Regions from separate parts of the Homo sapiens genome. Here region 1 is linked to region 2. Evidence: fine-mapped expression QTL. Tissue or cell type: whole blood. Region 2 holds a variant in brackets; the other region holds the start of a gene. All regions are shown on one strand. Distances are between the middles of the regions.

What was found. PIP is the estimated chance that this variant, and not a neighbour inherited with it, causes the effect.
Region 1: it holds the start of RIOX2, and the variant in region 2 is fine-mapped to the expression of RIOX2 in whole blood (TOPMed, PIP above 0.99).

The regions. Positions count from the first base shown.
Region 1 is chr3:97,968,781-97,976,883 of GRCh38, reverse strand. It overlaps RIOX2 (ribosomal oxygenase 2), which reads left to right and starts at 4,453. Exons shown (of 10, transcript NM_153182.4): 1 at 4,453-4,503. It overlaps LOC124909398 (a long non-coding RNA gene), which reads right to left and starts at 4,231. Exons shown (of 2, transcript XR_007095976.1): 1 at 3,074-4,231; 2 at 1,762-2,018. RefSeq lists a silencer at 4,269-4,708 and an enhancer at 4,979-5,238.
Region 2 is chr3:97,806,709-97,814,820 of GRCh38, reverse strand. All of the region lies in intron 2 of LOC101929298 (a long non-coding RNA gene), which reads left to right. Among named protein-coding and RNA genes, the nearest start is that of CRYBG3, 11 kb to the left of the region's middle. The variant CTG/G (reference allele first, on the strand shown) is at 4,916.

The DNA of each region.
Region 1 (8,103 bases), 160 kb before region 2:
AAGGGAAAGTCATTGGAAAATCCTGAGGCATATTTTCACCTGCAAGTGCTGGGTTGCTGGAGAAAGGAGGTCTGCAGAATCATTTAAGAAAAGTCATGCAGCCTAACACCAACTTTCCTATAGGCACAGGCTGTAAAAGAAATTGGACTCTAAGCAAGAAAAGAAAATAGGAATGCTTACCCAATTCAATTTTGTAAACAGAGTAACTACTCTGTGAAGAACTCTGTTGCAGTTCTCAGAATTAAAGAAGCACATTTCTTGCTCCCAAGGAGTTTAAATCATAGTTTTATAAATATGCAAAATATAATTCCAAACGGTGATGGTATGCTTGTTATCAAGTTAAGTACGTTGAGTTCTATGAGCTGTATCGTAACTACTATAGTCTTGAAAGACCTCGGCCTGGGTCATTGTTAAACAAATTTGACTTTTCTGAAGGTACTAAGACACCAAGATTATCCCATGGTGATATGACATCAATTTGAAGGTACTCTGCTTGATGAATTGTGTAAATTAAGTGAAGTATGCATGTATAAAAGGCCCAACTGCATTTAATTCATTCCATGGAATCATGTTCAAGATGTCATATGGGATTTAACAGTAATGCCTCTCACACTCAATAGCATTTTACAGTTTTAAAACTCTTTTGCTTACTCCACCTCACCTGAAACTCACAGCATCTTTCCGAGTTAGGTGAAATTAACCACTTTTGGAGAAACATAAACAGAGGTCCAAAGAATATTACTTGATAGGCAGTATGGGTGCTATGGTCTGAATGTTTGTCCCCACCCTGGATTCATATACTGAAACAGAATCACCAATGTGATTGGAAGGTGGGGCCTTTGGGAGTAGATTATGTCACGCGGGTAAAGCCTTATAAATGGGATTATAAAGAGGACCCACAGAATTGCCTTCCCACTTCTACCACGTGAGGATGCAGCTAGAAGGTGTCCTCTGTGAACCAGAGAACAAGCCTCCAAAACTGTGAGAAGTCCATTTTTGTTGCTTATAAGCCACCCAGTCTTAGATATTTTCTTATAGCAGCCCAAATGAAAAAAATGGACTATCAAATGATGTATTTTTGAGCAAGTTCCTTAACCTTGATGTGTCTGTTTCCTTATATTAAAAAGTTAGCCCAATATAGTGGTATAAATATTAAAGTCATATACTAGAAAGACATGGTTTAGATATTTTCTGGACCAAAGTGAATACAAACACATAGGGGGCAGTACTCACATAGTTTAAAGCAATGTGTGTTTCCTGGAATCGTATGACACAGTAGCATTATAAAATAAAGCTTTACAACAAAAATACAAATATTAATCATTTTATAAGTTCTTCAATGTTTATAGACTGAAAGGTAATTCCAATCAGACTGATTCTTCTTCTAATGCCCTTTGAAAATTGGAGCACAGACCCTTAAGCCTATGGAATTTGAGTGCCAATAGGGATATCACAGTACATCTGGTGCAATCTTACTTTATAAATGAGGAAAGTGAATGTTAGCAAAGAGAGTTTTCCAAATTCATATACCTGGCCCCTCCAGAGTTAGATCTAATAACCATAAAAAGTACATTTACACACCACCATTTTTAGATTTTTTTGCACCCAGCATCATTGTGACTGGAGGTAGGAGTAGGACAGGGTTGCACTTTTGCAGCCTGATGCCCAGGCTGGACAGGTGCACAGCCACAATGAGGTGGCTAAAAACCAAAAGCTCTACAGGAAGAAGAGCCTAGGAGACCACAGAAGAGGAAGACAAACTTGGCTCTAAAAAGAGTCTTTTAATAAAGCAATCCAAACGGTGTGAACGTCAAGCACCTCTGCAGAAATGTAACTTATTTTACAAGGCTCATGGACAAGTCTGTTTCAGGGTTTATGGCCGAGACATGAAGGGAATTCTCTTCTTTCTCCTGTCTCCTTGGCATCTTGTTCCTCAGTTACAGAGGAGGAGCGCTAGTCTGTTGATTAGAAATCTGGAGGCTTCTAGACTTTTCCGGACAGATCTTGAGAGCTGCCATCTACAACATTGTTTTCATGAGAAAATTAATTACAGAAACAAAATAACTGACTTTTAAATGAACCTATGGTGGGGACTGGATAGCAGTCTGCATCTTGTCCTCTGGAAGAACTTTTCCAAAAAAAAAAAAAATACCAGAAACAATACATGTAGGAAGGCCATATATTCTAGAAGCCTCCCAGGCAAGGTTGCAGACCATTCTCCACTCCCATCCCATGCCACCCTTACTTCCTCACCTCCTCTTCCTCCTCTCAGGCAAGGTTGCAAGCCATTCTCCACTCCCATACCATCCCACCACACCCTTACTTCCTCCCCTACCTCCTTCCCTCCCTCCCCCTTCCTCCCTCCCTCCCCGCCCCTTCCTTCTTTCCTTCCTTTAGACGGAATTTCGCTCTTGTCACCCAAGCACAAACTAACTTTCCTTCTCTTTTTCTTTTTCTTTTCCGAAACAGAGTTTTGCTCTTGTTGCCCAAGCTGGAGTGCAGTGGTGCAATCTCAGCTCACTGCAACCCCGCCTCCCTGGTTCAACCAATTCTCCTGCCTCAGCCTCCTGAGTAGCTGGGATTACAGGCAGGCACCACCATGCTTGAGTAATTTTTTTGTATTTTTGTTAGAGACGGGGGTTTCACCATGTTGGCCAGGGTGGTCTTGAACTCCTGACCTCGGGTGATCCACCGGCGTCAGCCTCCCAAAGTCCTGGGATTATAGGCGTGAGCTACCGCACCTGGCCCCTTCTCCTTTTCTTCACAGGAATGATGGGCACTGTTTAGGTCTGAAAATGGAACTATCATGACTTTTTTGCTTGCTATGCTAAGAAATCGGAATTATAATGAAAAAAATCAGAGAGAACATACTGATATACTAATTTTGCATTAGAGGAACTCCTACACAAGATGTATGATTTCCCCCTGCAAAGCTGACTTCCATATGTACTTTTGTTCTGTTAGACATCCTGCGGCCATTTTATATGCTGAGAAAATGGTATTTTGTGTTGACATTATAACTTTTTTCTACAACCGTACTGCTTTTCCAAGTGGTGGACGTGTGAGAATTTACCTTTATCTGAATCCCGGGAACAGCAATATTATTCTATATTATCTTGAGTAGATGTCTTGCAGTCAAAATAAAGAGCGAAGTACATTACCAATATCATATCAACTAGAGATTTTTGCTGTTGACTATTCTTTTTTACCCTGTAAGGGCTAAATTTGATGTTACCCTCGAGTTTTTCCAACTGGAACCTGCCAGGAAACTTACTAGTTATACGAGTATTAGTAAAACGTGAAAAAGACCAACAGTTGACTGACTGGTTTGGCTCTAATCTTGTTTCTGCATCTTCCTAGCTGTGTGATCTTGTGCAAGTTAGTTAACCTCTCCTGACTCAGTTTCCTCAACTGTAAAATGGAGGTAATTGCAAGGTTGTAGTGAGGATGAAGTGAGGAGTATTTGAAACACCTAGCGTGGTGCCTTATAGCCAGGAAGAACTCAATTCAAGACTTGCTATTATTGTTAGTTTTAGACAAATACTAGACAAGGGTGTACTTTGTTCCCATTTGTTCATGTGCCACTTGATCCTTAGAAGCAGCCACTGGTCTCAGTCACCTTGACGGAACGAAATGTCGACTTCCTCTGGGTCCTCTGGCTGTCTACAGAGCAAAGAAAGGCACAGGCCCGCCACTGATTTCCCTGCTCCCTCATTTGTGCCTCCTGACTGGAACCAAATGTTCCAAAGCAGGGAGTGTTAGGCTGAAAGGACTCAGATAACTGCATTTCTTCTGTTTCTATAGCCATAGTCGCAACGAATTTCCAGTATCTTTTAAAACTAGGATTGACTCTCTCTCCCGGAGCGAGATGATATAAATGACACTCGGCTTGTACAAATCAGCATTGTGTAGCCACACAGCCCATAAGAAAGCCATGGGAGAACCCGGACCACCAACTCCCTAAACTTGCACCGCTGGTATTCCTCTTCAGGCCTGCTTCTCTATTCATAAAAGGAACGGAGTTGCACCAAAACGCTCTCTCAAATCCTCTCCTGCCGCCCCAAGTTAAAAGAAAAAAAAGGAGAGCCGGGTGGGTGGCTCACACCTATAATCCAGCACTTTGGGAGGCCGAGGCAGGAGGATCGCTTGAGCCCGGGAGGTAAAGGTTGCAGTGAGCCAAGATCGCTACCACTGCACTCCAGCCTGGGCGAGAGTGAGACCTTGTCTCACATACCATAAAAAAAAAAAAAAAAAAAAAAAAAAAAAAAAAAAGAGGAAAAAAAAGGCCATTTATTTCCTTCCATATGGACTAAAGAAACGCCCGGGCGTGAACGCGGAACACCGCCGGGTAGCCAGGCCTCCGGGCTGCCACCACTTGCGGGCCGGCGTGGCGGGGCGGGGCGGGGGCTGGAGCACGGCCCGGAGCGTGCCCACGCTGCCCCGCCTCCAGCCGCTGCGCCGCAACGCAGTGGGCTCGCGGCCGCGAGCAACAGGCCGTGCCGGGTGAGTGGGGCGCTCTCGTGGGCATCCCAGCGCCGGGGCAGGCCGGGTAGTGCCCGATCCCGCGGGGCGCGCGCTGCTGCTTTAGGCACCCGGGCTCGGGTGCGGGTCTGGGAGACCTGTCGGTCGGCGAGAAGCCTCGGTGGCCGGCGCTGTGGTTGCGGGACCTGGGACGCGCTCCCAGGCGTCCCACCTCCCCGGAGACTGGGGCAGGGTGGGTGGGGCCCGGATCTAGGGGTAGGGTCGCGGAAGCCTTGGTTACAGAGAGTCGCACACGTGGCCTGCTAATGGTCGCGACACCGGTGACGAGCGCACGGAAAGTTTGGAGGCTTAGCAAGGAGGGTGGTGCCGGCCTCCGCCCGGTGGTGGCAGAACTGCCTGTGCGAGCACGGCTTCCACGTGGGCTGCGCCGCCGGGCGTCATGTCGGGCCTAAGAGACACGCTCTACAGCTGTGAAATCTGAAGTTCAGGTGTGTGGGGAGAAGGGCAGCTGCATTACATCATATGCTTCCAATTCATTTACCAGCAAATAATTCCGCAACGATTGGCCGACAGCTGGGTTGTCCAACAGGTTACTGAGACCAGGTTATTCACTGTTTTCAGGAAGGATAGACTGGGAGGAAGAGGATCTGATTTCGCCACTCATTAGCTGTAAATCTGGTGCCTCGGGTTTCATGTCACTGGGCTCATCTTTGAGCAGAGGAACCTGATTTACTCAGCTTCTTCTGCTGGTACTGGTTTTTGCCTCCTGGACATCAAGCTTTGTAACCTCATGGTCACGAAAATACATTGAGGTATAGTCCGTTTCCTCTCTAAAATCAGACTAAAAAGATAACTGCTGATCACTCCTTTAGGTCAATAGGAGAACCAGTTTTCCCTCTGGATTGATTAACATATCTCTGAGCCAAAAAGAAATGTTTTAGATCAGTCTGGGCAACCTTGTTACAAGCAATATATAATTTCTGACAGCCGTGTGTTTAACTGAGCTGCGTTTGACTGTTGTCCTCCATTAGTGGACCTAAAATTCATCTAGAGAGCGTATTACGTTAATGCAGATTATGGGCCTCAGCCATCAGAAGTGGCAATCCAGTGGGCTTGATGAGGGCCCAGAAATTTGCATGCTAACAACCTTGCTGGTAACTCTGAACTACATTCTGTAAAACTGCCCAGGGGATGTAGAAATTCATACTTCCCTCCCCGATTTAGTAATAACTACTGATGTCTAAAGTGCCTTTTAGCTTTTACGATACTCTTGAATCCTGAAGTGACAGCTGCAATCAGAAAAATAATCCCCTCTGCACAGGCCATCTGTTTTTTCCGTAACTGTTTTGTGTAAGGCCTTTGTGGTTTGTCTCCAAAATTGTATACAGACAAAAGATGAAAATGTGAAAAATTCAGCAGACATTTCTTGAGGACCTCCTATGTACCACACCGTGCTTGTTTCCGGGGATATACAAATCCTTTCCTTCAAGAGCTTCCTCACGTCTTCATGTCCTCAAATATTATAGAAAAGGAGGTTAGGGTACCTTTAAAATATAGTGACTGTCTGTCTGTTGCCTATAGTATGGTTGTCAACATTGATTTTCTTATAGGGTTTATCTGTGGGGTAGTCACCAAAGTATGAACTGTAAATCTTTTAGTCTTTTTACATTTAATGCTTATAGTCAACTCAAATGGAAAACAATTGCTCTTCAAAAACTTTTCTGTGATTTTACAGAAATATTTACTCCTATTGGGGTGGTCTCTAAGGCTTATGGGCAAGGTTGTGTTGGCTGTACTATTCTAGACAAAGCATTGTCTTCTTTAATTACTATAGTATTGGATTCTAAGATATGTGTTTTACTTCTTGCTGTTTCCGAAATTATGATATGTACCTTAAGACTTTTGTATGTTTAATGTGGTAGGATGCTTCATCTATTCTCCCCTCTGCTCTAGAAAGCTGTTAAGAGGAATGGTTGTCTTACAGTATGAGTAGTGTGAGAATCAGAGAAATAATGTATTTGCCCAGAAACCTCTAAGCTTAGGCTCCAATTAACTGAGCCTCAAATCATTTCAACATGAACACAGAGAAACAAATGATGTAACTTTTGGCAGTATGGGTAGTGAAATTTATATTCTAAGGAAAGCATTTGTTATACAGTATTGGGGTTTGTTAGTGATTGTAGATGGGAAAGATTCTTTTAAGTGATTTTATTTTGGCTTAAGTGTTTTGCATTCTTTGATTAGCCACACTTTCTGGTGAATGTGCTTATACTGTATTCATATATTATGCTTAAAGAAAAGCTTTTCGTTTGCATCTTCCTCCTGCTCTCTCCCCTTAAATGAATTTTAAACTGACCAATTGTGAGAGATAAGAGATGTGTGGCTGAATATAAAATGACTCTATAGGGTGCCTTTAGTAATACAAACCTAATAAACCAATCTAAGTTTTTAAAAATTAAACGTGAGCAATGTGCTGTGGTCCCCAAGGCCATCTTTAGTTCAGCAATTTGCTAGGAGGACTCGGCTGATTTATTACAGGGAAAAGATATCAAGCACAGTCAGCAAAGGGAAGAGGCACATGGGTGAAGTTCTGGGGATACCAAGTGCAAGGCTCCAAGGGTCTTCGAGCGGTCACACTGGCTGTGCTCAGTTGCTCCAGCAACTAGTTGTGTCAACACTTGTGAAATGTTGCCAACCTGCGAAGCTTGTTAGAGACTCAGTGCCCAGGGCTTTTACTGGGGGCTTTTCACTTAGGCCACCCCTGCCTGGCACATACCAACGTTTCCAGACTCCCAGAGGAAAGCAGGTGTTGGTATAAACTGTAATGATTGTACATTTTAGGCATGGTGAGCCACTCCTATCAGTTAATGGTGGTGGAAACTCTCCCAAAATCTTAAGTTCTCAGACATCGGCCACAAGCTGCACTTTCAAAGGATAGCAGTCAGGCCTGCTATGGAACGTCTTCTGCATAAGCAGTACCCCTTCCCGAATCCATTTTTCTATCTCTTTGTATTTCTCCATCACTTGAGAGTTCCATGTACTAGCAATGCTGTGCCTTCCTGAAGCCTTAATTCTTTCCTGGAGAATTCAAGCTGGTCTGTTTCACTTAAAGGAAACATTTTCAGAAAATGTGTCTTACTGACCACATATCCTAAACACTAAAGTTTATTTTTTTTTTCTAAGCTTCAAGCTTTACCCCTCTCCTGTAGTATCAGTTTGTGTTAGTCTTCCACCATGTCCTGTGTTTCCTTATCAAAAGCACCTGGTCTTTTGAAGGAATGGAGCTGTTTAGAGGGTTTTATATTTTGACATTTCCTTTCTTAATTTGTTCAGTTTACATCTGGGTTTCAATCTAAAGTTTCTTTTATAAGTTGCAACACGTCACACAGTATGCAACACATCGTTCCAGGATGCTTACTTCCCAGGCCAGAACATTAATTCCACTTAGTCTACAGTGTAGCTGAAATACTGCTTAGTTATAATGACAAAAGAACAGAAAACAGTATTCTTGCAATTCTGATAACTCACCAAAGTAGGAAACTATACCATTTATAAATAACAAGTCTTTCAGAAATTTTGGTTTTTATAAGTACAGTGGTTCTTAACCTTGTCAGGAGATAG
Region 2 (8,112 bases):
AGGAAGGTAGTCAGAGAAATAACAAATACATACATACATATTTTCTGAAAAGTCTACTAATCACTCTACATTTCAGAAAAGTCTATAAGTCATTCTACATTTCAAGAAAAAAAAGAAAAGAAAAAGAAAACTTCTGAAATAAAGATCCAGGTAGAATCTAAATCATTGACCCTGAATTTATTCCTTTTGTGTTAGCTGCTTTGAACATGATTAGGGAAGTTTGTGGGAGGAATATATATTGAGAAACAACAACAACAAGTTATATGTTTCAAAGAAAGAAACATACAACTCAGCAACAGTTATAAGATTACAAAACAGTGTGATAAATATGAACAGGCATGTCTCCTTTCATAGCACTTTATTGTGCTTTGCAGGTAGTGTGCTTTTTACAAATTGAAAGTTTGAGGCAACCTCTTGTTGAGCAAGTCTATCAGCCCCATTTTTCCAACAGCATGTGCTGATTTCCTGTCTCTGTGACACATTTTGGAGATTCTTTGGAGAATAAGTAATAATTCAACTTATAATAATTATAATAATTCATCATTATTATATCTGTTATGGTGATCTGGAACAGAGGTCTTTGATATTACAGTTGTAATTGTTTTGGGGTGCCATAAACCACATCCATATAATGTAGTGGACCTAATCGATAAATATATGTGTTCTGACTACTCCGTGGACCTACCGTTACCCTGTCTCTCTCCTTCTCCTTGGTCTTTCACCTTGGGCCTTCCTATTCCCTGAGACACAACAATATTGAAATTAGGCCAATTAATAACCCTGCAATGGCCTCTAAGGTTTCAAGTAAAAGAAACACTTGTGTATCTCTCACTTTAAATCAAAAGCTAGAAATGATTAAGCTTAGTGAGGAAAACACGTCAAAAGCTAAAACAGGGCAAATGCTAGGCCTTCTGTGCCAGACAGTGTTAGCCATGTTGTGAATGCAAGGACAAACTTGAGGGAAATTAAAAGTGTTACTCCAGTGACTACATAAATGAAAAGAAAGTGAACCAACCTTATTGCTGATACGGAAAAAGTTTTAATAGTCTTGATAGAAGCCACAACATCCCCTTAGGCCAAATCCTAATTCCCGGCAAAGCCCTAACTCTCTTCAATTCTATGATGGCTGAGAGAGATAAGCTGGAAAAGAAAAGTTGGAAGCTAGTAGAGGTTGGTTCATGAGGTTTACGGAAAGAAGCCATCTCCGTAACATCATAGTGGAAGGTGAAGCAGCAAATGTTGATGTAGAAGCTGCAGCAAGTTATCAGAAAATCTAGCAAAGATCATTCATGAAGGTGGCTACACTAACAACAGATTCTTAATGTAGATGAAACAGCCCTATATTGGAAGAAGATGCCATGCAGGACTTTTGTTACTGAGAGGAGAAGTTAATGTCCAGCTTCAAAGTCTCAAAGGATGGGCTGATTCTCAGGGACTAATCAAGCTGGTGACTTTAAGTGGATGCCAATGCTCATTTACCATTCCGAAAATATTAGGGCCTTTAAAAATTATGTTAAATCTACTCAGCTTATGCTATAGAAATGGAACAACAAAGCCTGGATAACAACACATTTGTTTACAGCATGGTTTACCGAATATTTCAAGCCCATTGTTGATACTTACTGCTCAGGAAAAAAAAAAATTCCTTTCAGAATTAGTCACTCATGAGCTCTGATGGAGATGTACAAGATGAATGTTGTTTACATGCCTGCTAATACAACACCTATTGTGCAGCCCATGGATCAAGTAGTAACTTCAACTTTCTAGTCTTATTTTTTAAGAAATACATTGTATAAGGCCAGAGCTGCCATAGATAGTGATTCTTCTGAGGGATCCGGGCAATGTCCATTGAAAATCTTCTGGAAAGGATTCCAGATGCCATTAAGAACATTCATGAGGCCGGGCACAGTGGCTCACGCCTGTAATACCATCACTTTGGGAGGCCGAGGCAGGCGGATCACGAGGTCAGGAGATCGAGACCATCCTGGCCAACATGGTGAAACCCGATCTCTACTAAAAAAAAAAAAAAAAATACAAATATTAGCTGGGCATGGTGGCACACGCCTGTAGTCCCAGCTACTCAGGAGACTGAGGCAGGAGAATCACTTGAACCCAGGAGGTGGAGGTTGCAGTGAGCTGAGATCATGCCACTGCACTCCAGCCTGGCAACAGAGCGAGACTCCGTCTCGAAAAAACAAAAAACAAACAAACAAACAAACAAACAAAAAAAAAATTCATGATTCCTGTGAGAAGGCCAAAATATCAACATTAACAGGAGTTTGGAAGAGATTGATTCCAATCCTCATGGATGACATTGACGGGTTCAAGACTTCAGTGGAGGATGTAGCTGCAGATGTGCTGGAAATAGTAAGAGAACTAGAATTAGACATAGACCTTGAAGACGTGACTAAGTGGTTACAGTCTCACCAGAAAACTTGAATGGATGAAGAGTTGCTCCTGATGAGCAAAGAAAGTAGGTACTTACTAATAACCGTATATCTAATTTAGGACTAAAATCAGGTGTATGCAAGAATCAAAACAATCTGACAGCTGTGTGGCATTCTGATATGAATTGCTTTTCTCATAGCTAAAAGTTGTTAGGTTGAAAGTATTACTATCATGAAATCCTAAAAGGAACTTGGTCCATCTTTATTATTAAGAGTTAAAGTGTTTATTTTAATTGGTAGCAGTACTGTATTTTCTAATATATCTACAACTTCACTCTTGGTGAAGATGCTGTGAACGTTGTTGAAATGACAACAAAGGATTTCAAATATTGCATAAACTTAGTTGTTAAAATAGGGGCACAGTTTGAGAGGATTGATGCCAGTTTTGAAAGAAGTTCTACTGTGGGTAAAATGCTGTTAAACAGCATCACATACTACAGGGAAATATTTTGTGAAAGGAAGAGTCAGTCAATGTGGCAAACTTTGTCGTTGTCTTCTTTTAAGAAATTGCCACAGCCACCTCACCCTTTTGCAACCACCACCCTGACCAGTCATCAGCCATCAACATGAAGGCAAGACCTTCTACTATTATAGCAAAAAGATTAGAGTTAGCTGCTGTCTCAGATAATAATTAACATTTTTAAGCAATAAAGTCTTTTAAAATTAAGACATGTACATCATGGTTTTAGACATAATGCTATTGCATACTTAATATACTATAGTATGAACATAATTTTTGAATGCACTAGGAAGCCAAAAAGTTTATCTGACTTGCTTTACTGCTATATTCATTTTATTGTGCTGGTCAGGAACTGAACCCGTAATATCTCTGAAGTTATTCCTATACTGGGAAAAGGGAGGAAGAAATGCCGAATCATATGATTTGGGCAGGCTGTGCCTGGGGTCCTGGGTGGATTTCACAAATCACAGCTCTAGAAGCATGGATGGAAAACTTGCAACCAGAACCCAGTTGAAACACTATTTAACAGATTTTGAATCTATTGAAACGTTTATATTAGGAATATTACACTAGTCAAAAAGCAGTATAAAAGATCAGGAGTGCAATAGTAGGCCAAAAAAAGAGATAATTTTTGCTTGCCTTCTGATTTGGTGAGGAAATATGGCAGTGAGTGAGTGCTACTACATTGTGAATCATCAAATACTATGTGTAATACAAGAACATACAAGGGCTTTGGAATGTTAATATGAAACTACCTTTAAGTGAACTCTTTGCTGCATTATCTTGACCTTCTTTAAAATAATTGTATAATTAAAAAGTAAATGACAATGACAAGGTATGAGAAATAGGCAGATGGAGAAACTGCTGCACTGATCCTAATGTGACCTACATAATTTAATTTATAGCTGCCAATTATTGCTTGAGACAGGTTAGACGAGTGAATCAAGCTGGAGAAGTCTTACTAATAACCATGTATCTAATTTAGGACTAAAATCAAGTGTATACAAGAATCAAAACAATCTGACAGCTGTGTGGCATTCTTACATGAACTGCTTTTCTCATAGCTATTACCTGGAATTCACTCAAAAGTTGGCAGGTTGAAAGCATTACTATTATGAAATCCCAAAAGGCACTTGGTCCATCTTTATTATTAAGAGTTAAAGTGTTTATTTTAATTGGTAGCAGTACTGTATTTTCTAATATAGCTACAACTTTCAATAATTACTTAATTTATATAATAAGTATACATACATTTCCCATATTGGTTGCAATTATCAATCTATTCAGGCAGTTTATTTTTATGAGTGATACCATTTCAGGCATTCTTTTTTGAACATACTCATCTACCTTTTATTCTAATTCTTCAATATGTAAAATTCAATTTTCTCTACATTGTTATTTCATATAAATTTTTTTCTAAATATTTTAATTTTGAAAATATTTCAAACTTATTGAAAAATCACAATAGTATTAAGAACTTCTTTTTATTTCCTGAATCATTTGAAATTATGTTGTCAAAATGAAGTCCTGAATACTTTGATGTGTAACTCTTACAAACATGACTATTCTCCTAAAATCCTAACTGCAATTCCACTCTCAAAATCAAGAAACTAATGTTGACATAGTCTACCACCTTATCTGCAGACTCCATTTAAGTTTTGACAATTATCTCATTAATGTTCTTTTTAGCAAAGTGATCCAGTCCAGAATCACATACCGCATTTAGTTGTTATGTCACTTTCGTCTCCTTTACTCGGTAAAAATTCCTCAGTCTTTCATGACTGGGACTTTCATGACTGGGACATTTTTTTACTCTTACAGGCCACATTTTGGTGGAAGCAGGATCTTTTTATTTGGAAATGCCTGGTGTTTTCTTATGGTTGGATTCAGGCTGTATATTTTTGGCAATATCCCAAAAGTAATGCTATGTTATCATTGTGTCAGGTGGTACCTAATTCTTTTTTCTTTCTTTTTCTTTCTTTTCTTTCTCTTTCTTTCTTTTCTTTCT[CTG/G]TTTCTTTCCTTTCTTTTTTTCTTTTTCTTTCTCTCTCTCTTTCTTCCACCCACCTTCCTTCTTTCCTTCCTTCCTCCTTCCTTCCTTCCATCCTTCTTCCTTTTCCTTCTATAATGCTCTGTTCTCATTGTGTCAGGTGGTACATGATCTTCCTTCTTCCCTCCCTCCCTCCCTCTCTTCCCTCCCTCCCTCCCTCCCTCCCTCACTCCCTTCCTTCCTTCCTTCCTTCCTTCCCCTTCTTTCTTTTCTTTCTTTCTGACAGCGTCTCACTCTATTGCACAGGCTGAAGTGCAGTGGTGTGATCTCTGCTCACTGTACCTTAGACCTCCCAGGCTCAAGCGATCCTCTCACCTCAGCCTCCTGAGTAGCTGGGACTATAGGCATGCACCACCCAGCTCACTAATTTTTGGAATCTTTGTAGAGATGGGGTCTCACTATGTTTCCCAGGCTGGCCTCAAACTCCTAGGCTCAAGTGATCCTCCTGCTTCAACCTCCCAAAGTGTTGGGATTACGGGCGTCTGCCACCACACCAAGCTAAGGTACACGATTTCAATTTGTCCCATCACAGATAATAACTTGGATCACTTGATTAAGGTGATGTCTGCAAGCTCCCTTAATTGTATGCTAGCTATTTTTTTTCCTCTCTGTAATTAGTATTTTGTGGAGAAATAATTTGAAGCTATATAAATATCCCATTCCTTGACAACATTTCATTATTATTTTTAGCATCCATTGATGTTTCTAGACTGAATAAATTATTACAATTATTGTCAAATGGCGATTTTCTCATTCCAACATTCTACATTTATTTGTAGGTGTTCTAATGTTATCTCCCCATTAGTCATTTATTCACTTATTTGTATCATATAGATATATAAATTCATATTTCATTCAATGAGTTATATAGTCCATTACTATCTTTATTCATTTTGATGTTCAAAATGTCGCAGGTGTAGCCAGTTAATGCCCCTTCAAACTGTCTTTGTGTCCTTTTGCTATGTCCACATAATTATTTGAGCATTTTTTAACTTTCTGGAAAAACAAAATGTTCCAGGCTCATTCTGTATTTTTTCTGCTCCATTATGGAAGTAGCCATTTTCCCAAAGAGCCCTACTTCTTTTTAGTGGAGAATATAACCAAGATACCTACATGTGGGTGCCAGGTGTTCTCATTGCTGTTGGAGTCACTGCTCTTAGGCACATACACAGGTATATACACACAAACAGCATCTTTATCTCTGTATCTATATCTCTCTCTTTCTACCCATTGAAATTCATGTGCTCATACCGATACCTCCAACTGTAATACAACAATCCTTCTAGTTTTCTTTCCACACCTGTAACTCTCTTCTCCTACACTCTGGAGGATGACTCCCATTATTGTCAATATATTATTAGATTCTTTCCTTGATAAATGTTACTAATCATCTGTTACCACCACCACCTCCCTGGACGTCGGGTGTAGAAGCCCTCTTTACCCTTCTCAAGCTCCAACATCCCATGCCAGGCAATGTACATGCCTTCATCATCCTACAGGTGTTCCAACAACTGGTGCTAGGCTGCTCCTGCTGCTCTATCATCACCTCCCTACAAAGATGCGTAACTTGGTTGGCGCCACATACCATTTTGCATTCTCCACCAGCATTGTGTGAGAATTCCAATGATTTCATGTTCTTGCCAACACAAGGTATTACCAGTTTTAAAAACTGAAGCTATTTTAGTAGGTGTATAATGGTAATAAATCATAGTTTTTATTAGCATCTCCCTCATGATTAATGATGTTAAGCATCTTTTCCTGTATTGATTGACCATATTCTTTTGTGAGGTATCTACTCAAGTGGTTTGCTCATATTTTGTTGTTGTTGGCTTCTTTCTATTGATATATAATAGGTCTTTATATATTATGCAAGTTCTTTGTCAGATATATATATTGTGGATTTTTTTCCTGTTATGTAGTTTGTTTTCCATTTTTAAAAATTGTACTGTTTGTCTTACACTTCAAAAGAAGTTGTAGTTGTTGGGTGTAGTGTTCTACACATATGAGTTGGGTCTATTTGGCTGACTGATTCAGATCATCTATGTCTACTGTTTTTTTTGTTTTGTTTTTTTTTTTGTCTAGTTATTTTACCAATTGCTCAGTAAGAGGTATTTAGATCTCCTACTGTAATGGTGAAATTGTTTATTTCTCCCTTTATCTGTCAATTTCTGCTTTATGTATTCTGAAACTTTGTTACTGGATGCACACACATCTGTGATGAATGATAATAAAATGTCTTTATCGCAGTTAATTCTTTTTGTTTTGAAGTCTATTTTATCTTATATTAATATATGCACTCAAACCTTCTTATACTTAATGCTTCCGTAATCTTTTTTAATACATTTACTTACAACATGCCTGCATCTTTATATGTTAAATGCATTTCTTGCAGAGAGCAGATAGTTATGCTTTTCAAAAATTCATTCTGCTTATTTCTAACTTTAATTGGAGAATTTAATCCAATTAAATGTATTCCAAGTATTGATATAATGGTATTAAGGACTGTTTCTTCCTTCTGTGTTTTGTTCCTTTGTCCCCCCTTTCCTTATTACGTGGATTAATTGAATATTTCTTAAATTCTATTTTAATGTATTGGCTTTTTAATATTTCTTTTCCATGTTTTTAAATAGTTGCTCTAGGGATTACAATATGCATCTTTAATTTATACTGTCTATTAGAGTTAATATTGTATCAATTCTTGTAAAATGTAGAAGTTTTACAACTGTTTGGGTCCTTTATCACCCTCACCATCCTTTTTTATTACAGTCATCATATGTTATTTGTATATCTACATACATTATTAGCCCCACACAAATATGTTATTCTTTTACTTAAACATTCACATGTATTTTATGGGTACTTTTTAAAAAGCCTTCTACATTTACTCATATATTTATCATTTCATTACTTCTTGAAAATTAGACTTTTCCTTTGGTGTAATTTCCCTCCACCCTGCAGAATTTTTTCTTGGTTTCATATCTTAGAATTCTGGATTAACTTTCTTATTTTTCTTTCAACACTTTAAAAAATACTGTACTACTGAATTTGGCAGGGTTTCTAATAAAAATCAACTTTTTTATATCAGTTTGTATAGAAACTTATTTGTATCACTTTTACTCTATAAATAAGGTTTTCTTCCCTCTGGATGTTTTTGATAT